4 separate regions of the Homo sapiens genome follow, and all the other regions are linked to region 2. The links come from fine-mapping of genetic effects on gene expression. A gene starts in region 2. Each other region holds a variant in brackets. All regions are shown on one strand. Distances are between the middles of the regions. Region 1 overlaps MTMR3 (myotubularin related protein 3). Region 2 holds the start of MTMR3 (myotubularin related protein 3). Region 3 overlaps MTMR3 (myotubularin related protein 3). Region 4 has its middle 20 kb from the start of ASCC2.

What was found. PIP is the estimated chance that this variant, and not a neighbour inherited with it, causes the effect. A credible set is the group of variants that fine-mapping cannot tell apart.
Region 1: its variant is the best candidate, but not a certain one, in a credible set for the expression of MTMR3 in whole blood (TOPMed, PIP 0.85).
Region 3: its variant is the best candidate, but not a certain one, in a credible set for the expression of MTMR3 in monocytes after interferon gamma (Fairfax 2014, PIP 0.75).
Region 4: its variant is the best candidate, but not a certain one, in a credible set for the expression of MTMR3 in lung (TOPMed, PIP 0.85).

The regions. Positions count from the first base shown.
Region 1 is chr22:29,968,734-29,972,898 of GRCh38, forward strand. It overlaps MTMR3 (myotubularin related protein 3), which reads left to right. Exons shown (of 20, transcript NM_021090.4): 3 at 2,243-2,329. The coding sequence starts at 2,327. Among named protein-coding and RNA genes, the nearest start is that of MIR6818, 36 kb to the right of the region's middle. The variant A/T (reference allele first, on the strand shown) is at 2,292.
Region 2 is chr22:29,880,749-29,884,913 of GRCh38, forward strand. It overlaps MTMR3 (myotubularin related protein 3), which reads left to right and starts at 2,426. Exons shown (of 20, transcript NM_021090.4): 1 at 2,426-2,611. RefSeq lists an enhancer at 2,232-2,526 and silencers at 2,239-2,408, 2,469-2,968.
Region 3 is chr22:30,028,708-30,032,867 of GRCh38, forward strand. MTMR3 (myotubularin related protein 3) reads left to right here. Exons shown (of 20, transcript NM_021090.4): 20 at 1-2,161. The region is part of intron 3 of HORMAD2-AS1 (HORMAD2 and MTMR3 antisense RNA 1); the gene reads right to left. Among named protein-coding and RNA genes, the nearest start is that of MIR6818, 24 kb to the left of the region's middle. The variant AAGATT/A (reference allele first, on the strand shown) is at 1,634.
Region 4 is chr22:29,856,157-29,860,321 of GRCh38, forward strand. No RefSeq gene overlaps it. Among named protein-coding and RNA genes, the nearest start is that of ASCC2, 20 kb to the left of the region's middle. The variant C/T (reference allele first, on the strand shown) is at 2,030.

The DNA.
Region 1 (4,165 bases), 88 kb after region 2:
CAAAGTCTACAACAGTGCATGGAGTGTAGAAAATATTGAATAAATATTTATTGAAAAGAATGAATAAATGAGATAATTTTACATTAGTTTCAGTTCTTGAGCTAGGCCAAATCACAAAAGTTTGGCTTGGTTTGAAGAGTGGTTAAGAATGATGACTCCAACTTGGTCTGTTACTGAACCATAAGGTTCTTCCTCATCCTTCCAGCCTCTAAAAAATGGTGCACCCAAAACCCCTGTCCTTAGTCATCTTAGCCTCTCCATTTATACTTGCTCCTGCATTTGGCTTTAATGCCATTCACACACTGATGTCTCCCACATTTATGTTTATATCTCTAGGCTCCATCTTCTTGATCTCTAGTCTGGTTTAACTAGCACTTTACTTGGCATCTTTGTTTGGATATGTGATAGGTTTTCAAACATAATGTGTCTAAAATGGAAACTTTAATTTCTTGTTCCTTGTCCGTTGAGCTGTCTCTGCATGGCACGAGAAGAATAGATTTTTCTTACAATGCTCTTCATCAATAAATAGAAAATCCTTGCTTCCGGTTGCTGACACAAAAAGCTTGACTTCTCTTTTTCTATCCTATTTAATTAATCCACTCAAATCCTATGGGCAGTATTTTCAAAGTATATCCAGAATCAGTAACATCCCACCACTTCTATCTCTACTACCTTTTCATTGCTATATTGTCTCTTGCTGGGGTTAATGACGCTTTCTAATTGGTCTTCTTTTGCCCCTTACCCCCAGTAGCCTTGACTGTTCTCTACCCAACAGCCAAAATGATTCTTTTTTTTGTTTTTTTGGTTTTTTTTTGAGACTGAGTCTCACACTGTCACCTGGGCTGGATGTGCAATGGCGTGATCTCGGCTCACTGCAACCTCTGCCTCCCAGGTTCACGTTATTCTCCTGTCTTAGCCTCCCGAGTAGCTGGGACTACAGGCACACACCCCCATGCCCTGCTAATTTTTTGTATTTTTAGTAGAGATGGGGTTTCACTATGTTGGCCAGGCTGGTCTCGAACTCCTGACCTCGTGATCTGCCTGCCTTGGCCTCCCAGAATGCTGGGATTACAGGCGTGAGCCACCACACCCGGCCAAAATGATTCTTTAGAGTAAGTCATCTCCTACCATTCCTCTGCTCAAAATGCCTCAACACAATCTGGGCCTTGCTACTGCTTTTATGTTCTCTTGTTCCCTTGCTTACATTGCCCTTAAAAGAGTTTTATGCTGCACATTGAAGCCCAGACTCCCTGAAATATCCTGTGTTACAGAAGCTTAGCAAACTAGAAATGTTGGTTTTGCATGAGACTGTTCAAAGAAAAGAGCAACTTACTTACTCTTTGTATAAGCCTATTTTTGGGTTTCTAGTTGGATATTCTTTCCCCCTTTTTTGTTCTTATAAAACCAGGTAAAGGTATTAGTACAGATTGTAAGTTTTTAGAAGAGCATAGAATATTTGGGTAATAAGGCAAATTTATTTTTCCTATTTTGCTCGTAAGTCAGTTTGGTTTCCTCAGATGGGGGATCCATTTTGAATTTAGAGATAACCACAAAAACATCCTAAAATACTACAAGAATAATGATTTTGCATTTGCAGGTTGATGTTATTTATTTTTTTGAGACAGAGTCTTGCTCTGTTGCCCAGACTAGAGTGCAGTGGTGTAATCACAGCATACTACAGCCCCAACCTTCCAGGCTCAGTTGATCCTCCCACCTCATCCTCCTGAGTAACTGGGACTACAGGCATGTGCTGCCATGACCAGCTTTTTTTTTTTTTTTTTTTTTTTTTTTTGAGACAGAGTTTCACTCTGTTGCCCAGGCTGGTCTCAAACTTCTGAGCTCAGGCTATCTGCCTCAGCCTTCGAAAGTGCTGGGATTATAGGCATTAAGCCACCTTGCCTGGCCTGTAGGTTGATTTTAATTGTTGCTTTATTCATCCAAGTTTTATGATATTTTTTGTTTTACTACGAACATTAGGAATGTTAGCCTTTGATACTGTTTTTGCAGAAACAGGTTAAGACTAACAGGAGTTTTACAAAGGAACTGTCAAATTGGGATTTGACTAGTGGGAATTGGCTGGGTGATAATCAACTTTTTCTTGGCTGACTCTGATCAGCTTCTTAGGCCTGTGTATATACAATACCTTTGTGAGGATATGGCCGATTAGGGGAAAAACTATTGCCAATTTTGCCTCCCCTCCTCTTTTTTTTTTCTTCTTCCCCCTCTTCCCCCCCACCCCCAGACTTCACCATAAGGGAAAGAAGAGAGCCTTGTTGGACACTGAAGAAGGG[A/T]CGGGGATTTCTCCTCCTAATCTGGGCCTCTTGTCATGGTAAGTACAAGGAAATAAGAGTAAAAAAAAAAACAAAAAACCCTGTGTCCTGACAATTAAGTGAACACTAATAAATTCATACTTACCCATTTTTGTTTTTGTAAGAAATTATTTCTTTTTCTTTCCCAGATCTCTTGTGTCTTTTCTTTTCTTGTTTACTTAGTAGTAATAGAGTACTCCAATATACAGAGCAGTTTCATTTCTGTTAACTTTAATCCTGTGAGCTAGATGTTGTCTCTTATTTTTCAGTCAGCAAGTAAATGGAATCAAGACTAAAACATACAGTTCTCGGACTCCAGGTTTTTAATTCCTTTTCTAGGAAGTAGCGTGTAGTGAAAACTGTGTGTGTGTGTTTGTGTGTAGACAAATTGTAAGATGGTAATCTGCATATTTACTTAAAAATTTTTTTAAATTGACAAATTACATATATATTGTGTACAGCATAATGTTTTGAAATACATATATACCTTGTGGAATGGCTAAATCAAGCTGATTAACATATGTATTACTTCACATAGTATATATGCTTTATGAATTTATAGAAGCAATTCCCTACCTTCCCTGTTTTGTCTCTTTAAGGCAGTATTTTGATCCCATAGTAGGTGGAGCAGCCCTGCACACCCCCTCCTGTATCTTTAACCAGAAAGAGAATTTAATGGACAATTTAATGACTTACGGGCCATTTCGGGCCCAGCTCAAGCAGAGAAGATGGAGCAACAAGCCAGCCACATTTTCATCAATCCTGAGGAAATGTAAACAGTGCTTCAAGGCTTAAAAAAGAAATGGTCCTCTGTAATATTGTCCTTCTTCTACCTTGTGATGTTTCCTAGATCCAAACTGTTTTATGCTGATGCACAGAGAAGGAATTGAAAAGGCTACATTAATTTCAAGCTTCATTAGGGACGTATGGAAAATGCTTTTCAAAATTAGAAAAAGTAAAACAAAAAAACTAGTTGTGCAGAAATGTCATATTAAAAGGAAGAGAAAGGTAACTGCCCTTATCTTAAAGGCATGCCAATTTTTTCTTAGTTTGTGGGCATTACAACTTTATGATTTATCTTATACCTAAACATTGATGAACTTTTCCTGTTATTTTCTTGATTATATTTTATTTTATTGGTTTTCCCACAGAGTTTTCAATGAATTGAAAAAGTGCTTGTCTAGTATTTCAGCCAGTGCTAATGAATAACAAATGATGGGCTTATGAAAGCAGCTCTGTTCTGTATTGAGGGTTTGTCCTTCATTGTATACCACACGGCTAGTAACAGTGTGGTCCTCTTCCTGGTGCTGCTGGGTTCTCCATGGTGCCTAGCAGAAAGTCTTCCTGGTGTTTTCCCTGGCCTGATGCTTTAGACAACGCTTGGGAGTTGATTCTGTGTGTACTAGTTGGGGAGTAGCATGGCCATGTATGTATCTTTTGTTTTTGTTTAGTTTCTCATAAAGTAGCATTGTTACAAGTTTTTACAAATTCTCATTTATAACTCTACCACCAGAACCCATGGTTGTATTCCGTTTTCTTTTTTCTTGAGACAGAGTCTTGCTCTGTTGCCCAGGCTGGAGTGCAGTGGTGCGATCTCGGCTCACTGCAACCTCCACCTACTGGGTTCAAGCGATTCTTGTGCCTCGGCCTCTCAAGTAGCTAGAATTACAGGCACCTGCCACCATGCTTAGCTAATTTTTGTATTTTCAGTAGAGACGGGGTTTCGCCATGTTGGCCAGGCTGGTCTCGAACTCCTGACCTCAGGTGATGTGCCTGCCTCAGTCTCCCAAAGTGCTGGGATCACAGGCATGAGCTGCTGTGCCCCATTGGTTATATTCCTTTCTAACTAGTTCATG
Region 2 (4,165 bases):
GAGTGAAACTCTGTCTCAAAAATAAAATAAAATAAAATAAAATAAAAAAACTTTAAATCATTCATCAATTTTAGTATTTACTGTTTCTTCTCCCATTCCATTAAGCCTATAGTCAGTCATAGAACAGAAAGGGAAAATCAGGGCAGCCACATATAAATACAGGTGCAAAGTTGAGGCAGGAGTGGACCCTCAAGGGCCAAGAAGAGGTCATTGCTGAGCTTCACATTTAGCCCTGGGCTTTCTGGAAGCCAGAGTGAAAAGAGAGACACAATCAGATGCGTAACAGTTATCAAAAAGCAGGAAGCACACCGGTTTTTCTGGTAGTAAAGCAAGGGCTTTCCAAGCTTTTAACTCTAAAGTAATTTATTTCGTTCTTTCTTTTTTCTCTCTCTGACACCCAGATTGGAGTGCAGTGGCACAATCAGGGCTCACTGCAACCTCTGCCTCCCAGGCTCAAGCCATTCTCCCACCTCAGCCTCTCAAATAGCTGGGACTACAGGCGTGCACCACCACGCCTGGCCAGTTTTTTGGTATTTTTTGTAGAGATGGGATTTCGCCATGTTGCCTAGGCTGGTCTCGAACTCCTGAGCTCAAGCAATCCACCTGCCTCGGCCTCCTAAAGTGCTGGGATTTCAGGCATGAGCCACTGCGCCCGGCCTAAAGTAATTTCTTACTTGAGATTTTATTTCAGGCTACTGTGTCCATGCACTGGGCAGTACAGCCTGGTGGGTAAGACAGCACAGTATTTTTTTTTTTTTTTTGTCTGCTGGGTTTGAATTTTGTTTTAATACACGCAATTTATTCTGTGCTTCACTTTCTTCATCTGTAATATGGAGATAATGGCATCTACCTATTAAAGTTGTGAAGATTCAATTAGATGAGTTGTATGAATAAATGTTAGCTGTTAGTTTAGTTTCGTTTTTTTGAGACGGAGTCTTGCTCTGTCGCCCAGGCTGGAGTGCGGTGGCGCAGTCTCAGCTCACTGCAACCTCCGCCTCCCGGGTTCAAGTTATTCTCCTGCCTCAGCCTCCCAAGTAGCTGGGATTACAGGCGCCCGCCACCATGCCCAGCTAACTTTTGTATTTTTAGTAGATCCGGGGTTTCACCAAGTTGGCCAGGCTGGTATCGAACACCTGAGTTCAGGTGATCCACTCACCTTGGCCTCCCAAAGTGCTGGGATTACAGGCGTGAGCCCCCGCGCCCAGCCAGCTGTTAGTTAATCAAGAAATTCGACTGCCTACTACTTAACCTGCACAGTTCTAGGTGCTGGGGAAACAGTGACGAACAAGACAAGATCCTTATCTTCAAGTAGCTTTTACATTTTAGTGGAGTAAAATGACAGTAAACATTGAAAATAAATTTCAGAAAGTGCTGTGGAAAAACTTTACAACAGACGCAGGAATAGATTTCATTTGACTAGTTCTCCCAGTTTCCAGAAAAGTCAAGGGTAGAATGTTAAAAGGCAACTCAGAGGAGGTGAATCTGTTAGGGCCTACGGTAATGCAATCCTGGTTTGTGGAATTCTGCAGGCTAGTGTGGGTAGGTTACAATTTTTTGGGGGAGTTGTTTTTTACTTTGTTTGAAAACTCACTTCTTCCCGCTGAGCTTTTGATTAGGAGCTGAAGTTGAATCAGTTTGAAATTGTATTCTGGACCGGATGCGGTGGTTCATGCCTGTAATCCCAGCGCTTTGGGAGGCCGAGGTGGGTGGATTGCTTCAGCCCAGGAGTTTGAGATCAGCCTGGACAAAATGGCAGAAACCTCATCTCTACAAAAAATACAAAATTTAGCCGGGCATGATGTTGTGAGTCTGTAGTCTCAGCTACTCAGGAGGCTGAGGTGTGAGGATCGCTTGAGCCCGGGAGGCAGAGGTTGCAGTGAGCCGAGATGCCACTGCACTCCAGCCTGGGCGACAGAGCCAGACTCTGTCTCAAAAAAAAAAAAAAAAAAAAAAAAAAGAAAAGAAAAGAAAAGAAATTGTATTCTGAATACAACTTCTAAAACACTATATTTACTTGCATTATATTAAACTGGTTTTATCCTGACCACAATTGCAGGTGGAAGATACCACTATTGTTCTATTTTTCTGGTAAGTAGAGTGAGCCATGTCTTGCCCAGGGTTACAGAGCTTGGAAAAGACGCCTCCTAAAAATCTGTAGGACCACCTTTGGTTTTCTTCCAGATTTTTTTTTGTCATCTCTTTTCCTCCACCCATTTCCCATCTGTCTAGCCATTCTTGCTCCGCTGGGCTTTTTCGCGAGCCTCTCCCCAGCTGCAGCCCCGCCCATCTCCTGGGGCGTGACCACCTGTCCAGGCCCCGCCCCCGTCCAACCGGCGGAGACCCGCCCCCTTTCCCGGACACCGGGCTCAGCGCCCGAGCGTGCGCGCGCGTCCTCGCTCGTCGCCCGGCTCGGCGTCGGGAGCGCGCTCTGTGTGGCCGCTGCCGCCATGTTGTTGTGGTTGTGAGAAGGCGGCGGCGGCGGCGGAGTAGCAGCCGGACGAGACGTCCCAGCGGCTCAGGCGCTGCCCAGCGCCGGCCCTGGCAGGGAGCCTGGTGGGGTGGCGGAGGGGGAGACTGTGCCGTGGAGGGCCTCGCCATGTCCTGCTGCCCGGTAAGAACCCCATCCCCGTCCTCCGTCTCCTCGGCGGGTGAGGAAGAGCTGGAGGAGGGGCCGGCCTCGGCCCCGGCCCTGGCCAGGCGGCTGTCACCCTCTGAGGAGGCAGCGCCCTGGGAGGGCTGGGGACTGCGTGCGGGGCCCGGGGAGGGGCGTCCCCGGCGGCTGTCGCCGCCAGGGGGAGGCGCTGGGTGTGGGAGTGGGAATGGGAGCTCGGCGGCCGAGCTCGGCCCGGACCCTAGATGCGGGGGAGGCGGGGTCCCGGGCTCGGGCTGCCTTCCCAGACCTGGCGGGGATGGGCCCGTGCGGCTCTGGGTGTGGGACGTACCCTCGGAGCGCCCGGAGTTATTCCCACGAACTCCCGGGAGGTGGGTGTGCGCCCTTCGCCCCCTGCCGGGTCTGTGGCGGTCCATCGTTGCCGGATACTGGAGGTCAGGGGCCATGGGAGCCCCGGGGCGAACGGTGCGGGCCTGGGCCTTGTGGAAAGGAGGAGTGACCGCCCGATCGTGCAGCAGGGCATCCCCCTGACCTGGTAGTACTTAGGTGGGTAGGATGATTGGGGGCGGTTGGCGTAACTGAGGGAACCCTGGTCAGACTGCTCCGCAAATGATTACAGTGTTATTTCTCCGGTAGTAATTTTGCTTGATGTATGGCATTTCCGGACCCATAAGATGATACTGTAGGTTGTATTTTGGACTGGAAAACTTATGTCAAAATTATGGGGTAGATTTTTTGGCCACATTAATAGACTCCCCTGGAATTTGATAATCTCACTTGTGAGTTTTGGACATGGACTGCTATTACATATTGATGTTCAAATGTCCTTTCCAGACCCAGGCCTAAATTCTTACTGTTGTAGTATCTTGATTCTGACATCTATTTTTCCACAACCCAAACAAACAAAACAAAACAAAACAAAACCCCAAAACCATATACTTTTCTAGTTAAGGTTCAACTTTCTCATATGTGAATGGTAATGCCATAAGAGGCCTGGGTTGAATTACAGGAGATTATTATTATTTTTTTCAATGTGAAATGTTTGTGATTTGTCCATGGAGAGGTGGTGGGGACCTTCCCCTTTCAGATTCAGGGCTGTTCAGTAGGACAGGAGACATTGATGGCATGCAGAAAGTCTTCCCTTTATAGGGCCTATGACTTGGGTAGGCTAGAAGAGCTTACAGAATGACACTTTTTTTTTTTTTTTTTTTTTTTTTTTTTAAGACAGAATCTCTCTCTCCCGCCCAGGCCGGAGTGCAGTAGTGCGATCTCTGCTCACTGCAACCTCCGCCTGCCAGGTTCTAGCAATCCTCCCACCTCAGCCTCCCAAGTAGCTGGGATTACAAGTGTGCGCCACCACGGCTGGCTAATTTTTGTATTTTTAGTAGAGACGGGGATTTCACCATGTTGGCCAGGCTGGCCTGGAACTCTTGACCTCAAGTGATCCGCTTGCGTTGGCCTTCGAAAGTGTTGGGATTATAGGCGTGAGCCACTGCCGCCAGCCAGAATGACACTGTTTTGAGTAAACCCAGTATAGTATGTGATATTAAATTA
Region 3 (4,160 bases), 150 kb after region 2:
TCACTTTCTGAATGTACCTTCTACCTAAAGTATACAAACACAAAGAGCCAGCTGAGCTGGTTCTAGTGTGAAAGCCGTAAGTGCCACCCAGCAGGCGTTTGAAAACAAGAAATCATTCTTCTGTGGAAGGAGAATGTGCCATCTCAGCTACCCTCAGTCCGCCAGGCAGCCCAGTCTGTGTATTCATATGAAGTTGTGAAAACCATGAGTGTGTGCCATGGCCATCGTGTCTACACACAGCCACTATTGTTCCTGTGGGCTAGTCTCCAGCAAATTAAAACACTGGCATGGCCTAGGAAGGGCGTTGCGAGCTCCTAAATGGAAAGCTTCTCTGGGGGTAGGGAGATGAAGAGCCAAGATGCTGGTGAAGCAGGTGCAGTGAGGATCCAAGGCAAGGAATTGCCCTGAGGGAGGTGGCTGCATATGGAGAAAGGCAGTTCTCTGTGGGCAAGGCCAGCTTGCTTCAGGCTGTAGAGGGAATTTGGTCTGAAGCAACAGGGCATGAACTGTGACTTTGAGCTGCCAGGTTGTCTTCATCTCAGAACTTTCCTATCCTGGCACTCTCGTTACCTTTCTTCTATACCTTGGCCTCTGTAACTGCAGTCCAAAACAAGTTACAGCTGCCTTAATCCACTGAGATTCTCTATGAGGATGTACAGAAAAGTTTTCCTGTAATAATTTTGCTTATATGCTAACTCTTTTCATGTTAGCAAAGAATATTCTATGAATTAGAATGTTACTGTGGTAGATCTAAAGGAGAATGAACAGAAGGTGCTGGAGGACCTGTTAAACAATCTCTGGCTATTAAAAAACATCAAGATGAGAATTAAAGGCATATCCTGATATACTTGCCTGCTTGCACATGAGGCTGGGAGATCCCATGCCTGTTGAAGTTAACTCTAGCCCTGACCTCTATTGATCTTTTGGGAATGAGGGCTGATTTGAAGGTGCTGTTGCAGGATTTCATTTAGCTGCTGCCAGTTCAAGTGACCTGTCCCCAGGGCTGCAGCTGTATCCACCTGATTGCAGTAGGTGAGGGCTAACAGCAGAATTTAAAGTGGACCCTGGGCTGTGGAGCAAAGTGACTATCCATTTGGACTTTTGGATAATGTGGCAGGAGTCCCAGCTGTTTAATTTCTAGTCACATTTTCCAGAAAGTTGTTCTAAGTTGAGATTACTGACAAGATTTCTCAAGGGCAGGACCAGATATGTGAGAGACTTCTAGTTCAGAGCTGACCCCTCTAAGCCTCTGACACTTAAACACGAGTCCTGCTGTCCCCAGCACACAACTGCACTGAAGCCTTGTTCCTCTCGGCTGGTGTAGAGCTCATCTGCATGTTGTGTGCAGATACCAGTAGCCTCCCTGCTTGAACAGGCCTCTCCTAGGCTAGGCAGGTGTTCAGAGGCATGAAGGTCTGGGCAGGGGAAGGGCGTCTTCTGAAATGGGAGTTACCAGGTTTTTAAATGCTGCTATTGTTTTATTTACCATTTAAGGTCTTTTCTATTATATCTGAGTAACTAGTCAGTTTTTCTTACAGTGCTCATAGCAGTTGTATTTGAATTGTATTTTCAGTGAAATTTGTTTTACATTGCCATTTAAAATTGGCCTTTAACAGCTTCCCAACTAGCTTAT[AAGATT/A]TTTTTTTTTAATGAAAACATAACCCATGAGGCTCAGATGCTGTTGAAGAAATAAATGGTATGTTGCTGCTGACAGTAGTGCTTGCCTATTGTAACAGCATTGGTTCTGCTGTAGCCTCGGTGACCATTTAAGTTGAATAAATCTGTCATTTTCACCCACAAACAGTTGTTGAGCCCCTGGATTTGGGTTGTCACTGTGGTTCTCCTGCCAGTGCTATAATCCAGTGTCGTAGGTGCAGGGTATGAATCAGCTCAGCCTCTTAGGAGAGAGGGGCTCTCAGCGAGGAGGGGGCGGGGGGGGGGTCACTATTTATCTTCCAGAGGCAGGGTTCATGGATTCCTGATGTTTAGAGGCGGAAGGGACCTTAGGTCACCTACTTCCACGGTTTTCATACTGTTCTCTGGGGCCTCGTGGAGAGGGAGCCTCCAGGCCCATTCAAAGCTTTATTAGATTTAAAAGTAAGATCTGGTATGAAGAAAGGTTTTGTTTGTTTCTTAAAATAAAAAGTCTGAAAATCACTAATCCAATCTCCTCCTTTTTCATTGAGGAAACTGAGACTCAGAGAGGGCCAAAGACATCCAGATTACCAATGAGTTAACAGCAAAATTTGAATAAAAGTCATTCTTGGCCAGGCACAGTGGTTCATGCCTGTAATCCCAGCACTTTGGGAGGCCGAGGTGGGAGGATCACTTGAGCCCAAGAGTTCAAGACCAGCCTGGGCAATATGTTGAGACCCATCTCTACGAAAAATATAAATAAACCTGTCTCTACAAAAAATATGAATAAACTAGTCAGGAATGGTGGTGCACACCTGTAGTCCCAGCTACTTGGGAGCCTAAGGTGGGAGGATCTCTTGAGCCTAGGAGTTTCAGGCTGTGGTGAGCCATGATCACGCCACTGCACTCCAGCCTGGGCAACAGAGGGAGACCCTGTCCCATAAAAAAAGGAAAATACTTTCCCGACTCCTAACCCTCTTCTTGTGCTCTTGGGCCTCCAGAAAGCCTGATGTAAATAGCTGTATTGGTTCTCGTTGAAATCTCAGCGAGGAGCTTAGGCAATTGCCATCACAAGGCTTGAATTATGAGCCCTTCTCTCCCTCTTAACCAAAATCAAAATGTTGTGATAGTCTAATCCAGTGTTTTTGTTTTTAACTTTTCAAATACATAAAAACAAATGATATGTTATTAGCATGAATCATCACAGTTTAAGTCATAACATCTTAAAATCAGTGGGCTTGGGGAGGGAGCATTTTTCATTAGTGCAGATGATAGGTTCACTGTGAACTGTCCCAGCATCCAATTTCTGGATTTTGTTTTAGTTGTTATATAATATGGGGGAGTTTAATTTTAAAAAATTTGAGTTTTATAGGTAAGCGGTTGCAAATGGTAGTAGTCACAGCTTGCCTGCAATCTCTTGTTGACAAAACTGAAGTACATGCCTGAAAAAAGGGATTAATAGAAGAATATCCAAAACCTGCTTTCAGTCTTTATCATCCATATATCAGATGAGAGACACCCAAAGATTTATAAGCACTAAAATTACTTTATGCTCAGGGCCACCAGGTCTGAGTTGGCCCTGGGCCTAATGATCACAGCACTAAGCTGGTGCCCTCCCAGTCAGTGACCCCTGCAAAGGCCACACACACACACACAGCAATACAGACTGTACAGTGAAGTCTCAAGCAGCCTCACTGAATGTGTTTTAAACCTTTGGGTGTATATAGTTTAAAAGACGGTTATTAATATTTATCAGGACATTATTTATTAATATCAGGACAAATTCTCCTGAGGCAGTGCCACAAAAGTTGGTTTGAAAATCACCAGTTTGGTGGAAAGCCCCTGTGTTTTAGAGCCCACAGACCTGGGGTGGGATCCTAGCCCTGCAGCACCAGCTGAGTTGCTCATGGGTGTATGAGGAACTCGGAGACATTTCCTCATCTGTAGCAGAGCACATGGCATATAAATGGAGTGGGAAGGTGGGGGCCTAGCAAATGCTGTCCTCCCCACTGTCCCATGAAATGAGATAGATAGATGATAGCATTTCTGTCTCTGGCTTCTAGCAGGCATTTGGAACAATCAATCAGAGCCAGGCAGCACTTCTATTCCACTGTGTGTTGAAACTAGACCCTGCTCTCGCTTCCACCTTACAGGGGAAAACATTTGACTTTGAAGCATTCCAATCTGAGTTTTGCACTAAGTTACAAATGAATCACTAGCTGAAGAAGACAAACTAAAGTTCATATATGTGTTTTAGTTTTATTTATTTTGAGACAGAGTCTCACTTTGTTACCCAGGCTGGAGTGCAGTGGCGCGATCTCGACTCGCTGCAACCTCCGCTTCCCAGATTCAAGTGATTCTCCCGCCTCAGCCTCTTGAGTAGCTGGAATTACAGGCACCCACCATCATGCCCAGCTAATTTTTGTATTTTTGTAGAGATAGGGTTTCACCATGTTGGCCAGGCTGGTTGAACTCCTGACGTCAGGTGAAATGCCCGCCTCAGCCTCCCAAAGTGCTAGGATTAC
Region 4 (4,165 bases), 25 kb before region 2:
CTCCTAATAGGGCCCTTGGCCACTTCCCCGGGCTGAAAGCTTGCTCCTTGTGGATTGCCAATGAGACCCGCAGGCCCAATACTTTTTGCCTTTGACAATCCTTTAGCTCCGTAACAGAAAATCAGCAGTGCCAGCAGGGCATGAAAACAGCCCAGTTTATACATATTTGTCAATATCTCAGTTTATGGTTAGGCATATCTGGGCAATTTGGAACAAAATAGAATGGTTACTGACGAGCCCCAGATTGATATTTTGTAATGGTTCTCCATGGCAGTTCAAGGAACTGTGTGGGGCATTTAAACCTCTTCAACTGTATCTTATCTTGTCCCATAAACACCCACCGTTGAGTCAACTGTGACTCCATGACCATCTCACCCCTCTAGCTCCCATGCCTGTATCCCAGCTGGTCCCACTGCAGGAGATGTTCTTCCTACTCCTGTTCCCCTTGTACCTGGTATACTTAGAATCATCTTTCAGGTCTCAGCTGAGTGCCATGTCCTCTAGGAAGCCCTTCTGACTTTCTCAAACTGAGTAAGGTTCCTCCTGTAAGTTCCCAAGTTGCCTAAAATAAACCTTAGCACATTGCCTTGTACTCGTCTATTGATGTGTTTGTCCCTCGCAGCAGGTGATAAATTCCTAGACATTCAAGTACTATGTCTAGTTCACCAATCATGTCCTCAGGGCCAAGGCTTGTGTCTGGCACAGAGAAGGTGCTCAGTATTTGTTGAATAAATATTAGCTGGCTTCAAAGTGTCTAATAATTTGAATTGAGGGTACATTGGGAGTTAATGAAATCTCAGGTTTTATATTATATATAAAAGTGAAAGCCACGTCTATAATTCCAGCTGCTTGGTAGACCAAGATGGGAGGACATCTTGAGGCCAGGAGTTTGAGGCTGCAGTGTACTATGATCACACCTGTGAACAGCAATTGCACTCCAGCCTGGGCAACATAGTGAGACCCCATCTCTAAAAAAATAAAAAATGGAAAAATAATTAGTTCATGTGTTACGGTATGTTAATATGGTATGTTAATATTATTATGTTAATACATCAAATATATACTTACATACACAAATATTTTAGACTCACATAACCACAAATTTAAAAAGACTGTATTATTAAAAATGGAAAGAAAATAAATATGCAACAATCTAACAATATAAGCATTGTTTATTTTCCTCCAGCCATATATTTTCCCAAGTGGCAGCATATGTTCTTTCTACCCTCTTACTTTTTTTTTTTGAGACAGTCTCGCTCTGTTGCCCAAGCTGGAGTGCAGTGGCGCGATCTCAGCTCACTGCAACCTCCGCCTCCTGGGTTCAAGTGATTCTCCTGCCTCAGCCTCCCGAGTAGCTGGGACTACAGGCGCACGCCACCACGCCCAGCTAATATTTTTATTTTTATTTTTATTTTTATTTTTATTTTTTTTCCCCAAGGCAGAAGAATTTTTCTTAGTACAGAACAAAATGAAAAGTCTCCCATGTCTACTTCTTTCTACACAGACACGGCAACCATCCGATTTCTCAATCTTTTCCCCACCTTTCCCCCCTTTCTATTCCACAAAACCGCCATTGTCATCATGGCCCGTTCTCAATGAGCTGTTGGGTACACCTCCCAGACGGGGTGGTGGCCGGGCAGAGGGGCTCCTCACTTCCCAGTAGGGGCGGCCGGGCAGAGGCGCCCCTCATCTCCCGGACAGGGCGGCTGGCCGGGCGGGGGGCTGACTCCCCCACCTCCCTCCCGGACGGGGCGGCTGGCCGGGCGGGGGGCTGACTTCCCCACCTCCCTCCCGGACGGGGCGGCTGGCCGGGCGGGGGGCTGACTCCCCCACCTCCCTCCCGGACGGGGTGGCTGGCCGGGCAGAGGGGCTCCTCACTTCCCAGTAGGGGCGGCCGGGCAGAGGCGCCCCTCACCTCCCGGAAGGGGTGGCTGGCCGGGTCGGGGGCTGACCCCCCACCTCCCTCCCGGACGGGGCGGCTGGCCTGGCGGGGGCTGACCCCCACCTCCCTTCCGGATGGGGTGGCTGC[C/T]GGGCGGAGACGCTCCTCACTTCCCAGACGGGATGGCAGCCGGGCGGAGGGGCTCCTCACTTCTCAGATGGGGCGGTTGCCAGGCGGAGGGTCTCCTCACTTCTCAGACGGGGCGGCCGGGCAGAGACGCTCCTCACCTCCCAGACGGGGCGGTGGGGCAGAGGCGCTCCCCACATCTCAGACGATGGGCGGCCGGGCAGAGACGCTCCTCACTTCCTAGATGGGATGGTGGCCGGGAAGAGGCGCTCCTCACTTCCTAGGTGGGATGGCGGCCGGGCAGAGACGCTCCTCACTTTCCAGACTGGGCAGCCAGGCAGAGGGGCTCCTCACATCCCAGACGATGGGCGGCCAGGCAGAGACGCTCCTCACTTCCCAGACGGGGTAGCGGCCGGGCAGAGGCTGCAATCTCGGCACTTTGGGGAGCCAAGGCAGGCGGCTGGGAGGTGGAGGTTGTAGCCAAGATCACGCCACTGCACTCCAGCCTGGGCACCATTGAGCACTGAGTGAACGAGACTCCGTCTGCAATCCCGGCACCTCGGGAGGCCGAGGCTGGCGGATCACTCGCGGTTAGGAGCTGGAGACCAGCCCGGCCAACACAGCGAAACCCCCTCTCCACCAAAAAAATACGAAAACCCGTCAGGCGTGGCGGCGCGCGCCTGCAATTGCAGGCACTCGGCAGGCTGAGGCAGGAGAATCAGGCAGGGAGGTTGCAGTGAGCCGAGATGGCAGCAGCACAGTCCAGCTTCGGCTCGGCATGAGAGGGAGACCGTGGAAAGAGAGGGAGAGGGAGAGGGAGAGGGAGAGGGAGACCATGGAAAGAGAGGGAGAGGGAGGGAGAGGGAGAGGGAGAGGGAGAAGGCTCGGCATGAGAGGGAGACCGTGGAAAGAGAGGGAGAGGGAGAGGGAGACCGTGGAAAGAGAGGGAGAGGGAGGGAGAGGGAGAGGGAGAGGGAGAGGGAGAGTTTTTTTTATTTTTAGTAGAGACGGGGTTTCACCATGTTGGCTAGGATGGTCTCAATCTCTTGACCTCGTGATCCGCCCACCTCAGCTTCCCAAAGTGTTGGGATTACAGGCATGAGCCAACGTGCCCGGCCTAAAAAATATTTTAATTAGCTAGACAAAGTGGCACATGCCTGTAGTCCCAGCTACCCAGGAGGCTGAGGCAGGAGGATCACCTGAACCCAGAAGTTTGAGGTTGCAATGAGCTATGATTGAGTCATTGCACTCCAGCCTGGGCGATAGAGCGATAAAAAGATATATATGCATATATATACATATACACACACACACAGACACAGATATATATATATATCAAAAATAAAAGAGAATATACTGTACGGTTCCATTTATATAAAGTTCAAAATAAGACAAACTAATCTACAGCAATAAAAGAATAGTGGGCCAGGCGAGGTGGCTCATGCCTATAATCCCAGCACTTTGGGAGGCCGAGGCAGGCAGATAGCTTGAGTCTGAGAGTTCGAGGCCAGCCTAGGCGACATGATGAGACCCCCCCATCTCTATAAAAAGTACAAAAAAATTAGCTGGGCATGGTGGCACATGCCTGTAGTCCCAGCTACTTGGGAGGCTGAGGTGGGAGGTTCACTTAAACCCAGGAGGTCAAGGCTGCAGTGAGCTGTGATCACACCACTGCACTTCAGTCTGGGTGACAGAGTGAGACCCTGTCTCAAAAAAAAAAAAGTGGTTATGTGGGAAGGCAGTTATTGATTATAGGGAACACGAGGGAGTTGGTAACATTGGGGGCTGATAACATTCTATATCTTGATAGAGATGTTGGTTACATGAGTGTTTACATATATAAAACTATGTCAGGCTGTACACTTAAGATTTGTGTACTTTATGTGTAAAATAAAATTGTAAACATATATTATGCTTCCTAAACTAGTGTAATCTGAGTAAGTCTGTAGTCTTGTTAATTGCCAATTAATTTCCTGACTTTGGTAATGCACTATAGTTACGTAAGATGTTACCATTGGGGGAAGTTGGATGATAGGTACACAGAACTTCTCTGTACTATTTTGCAACTTCTCGTGAGTCTACAGTTTTTTCAAAATATGAAGTTAAAAAAATCTTATCCTTCCTATTCTTCATTTAAAAATCAGACAGTTTAAACATGCT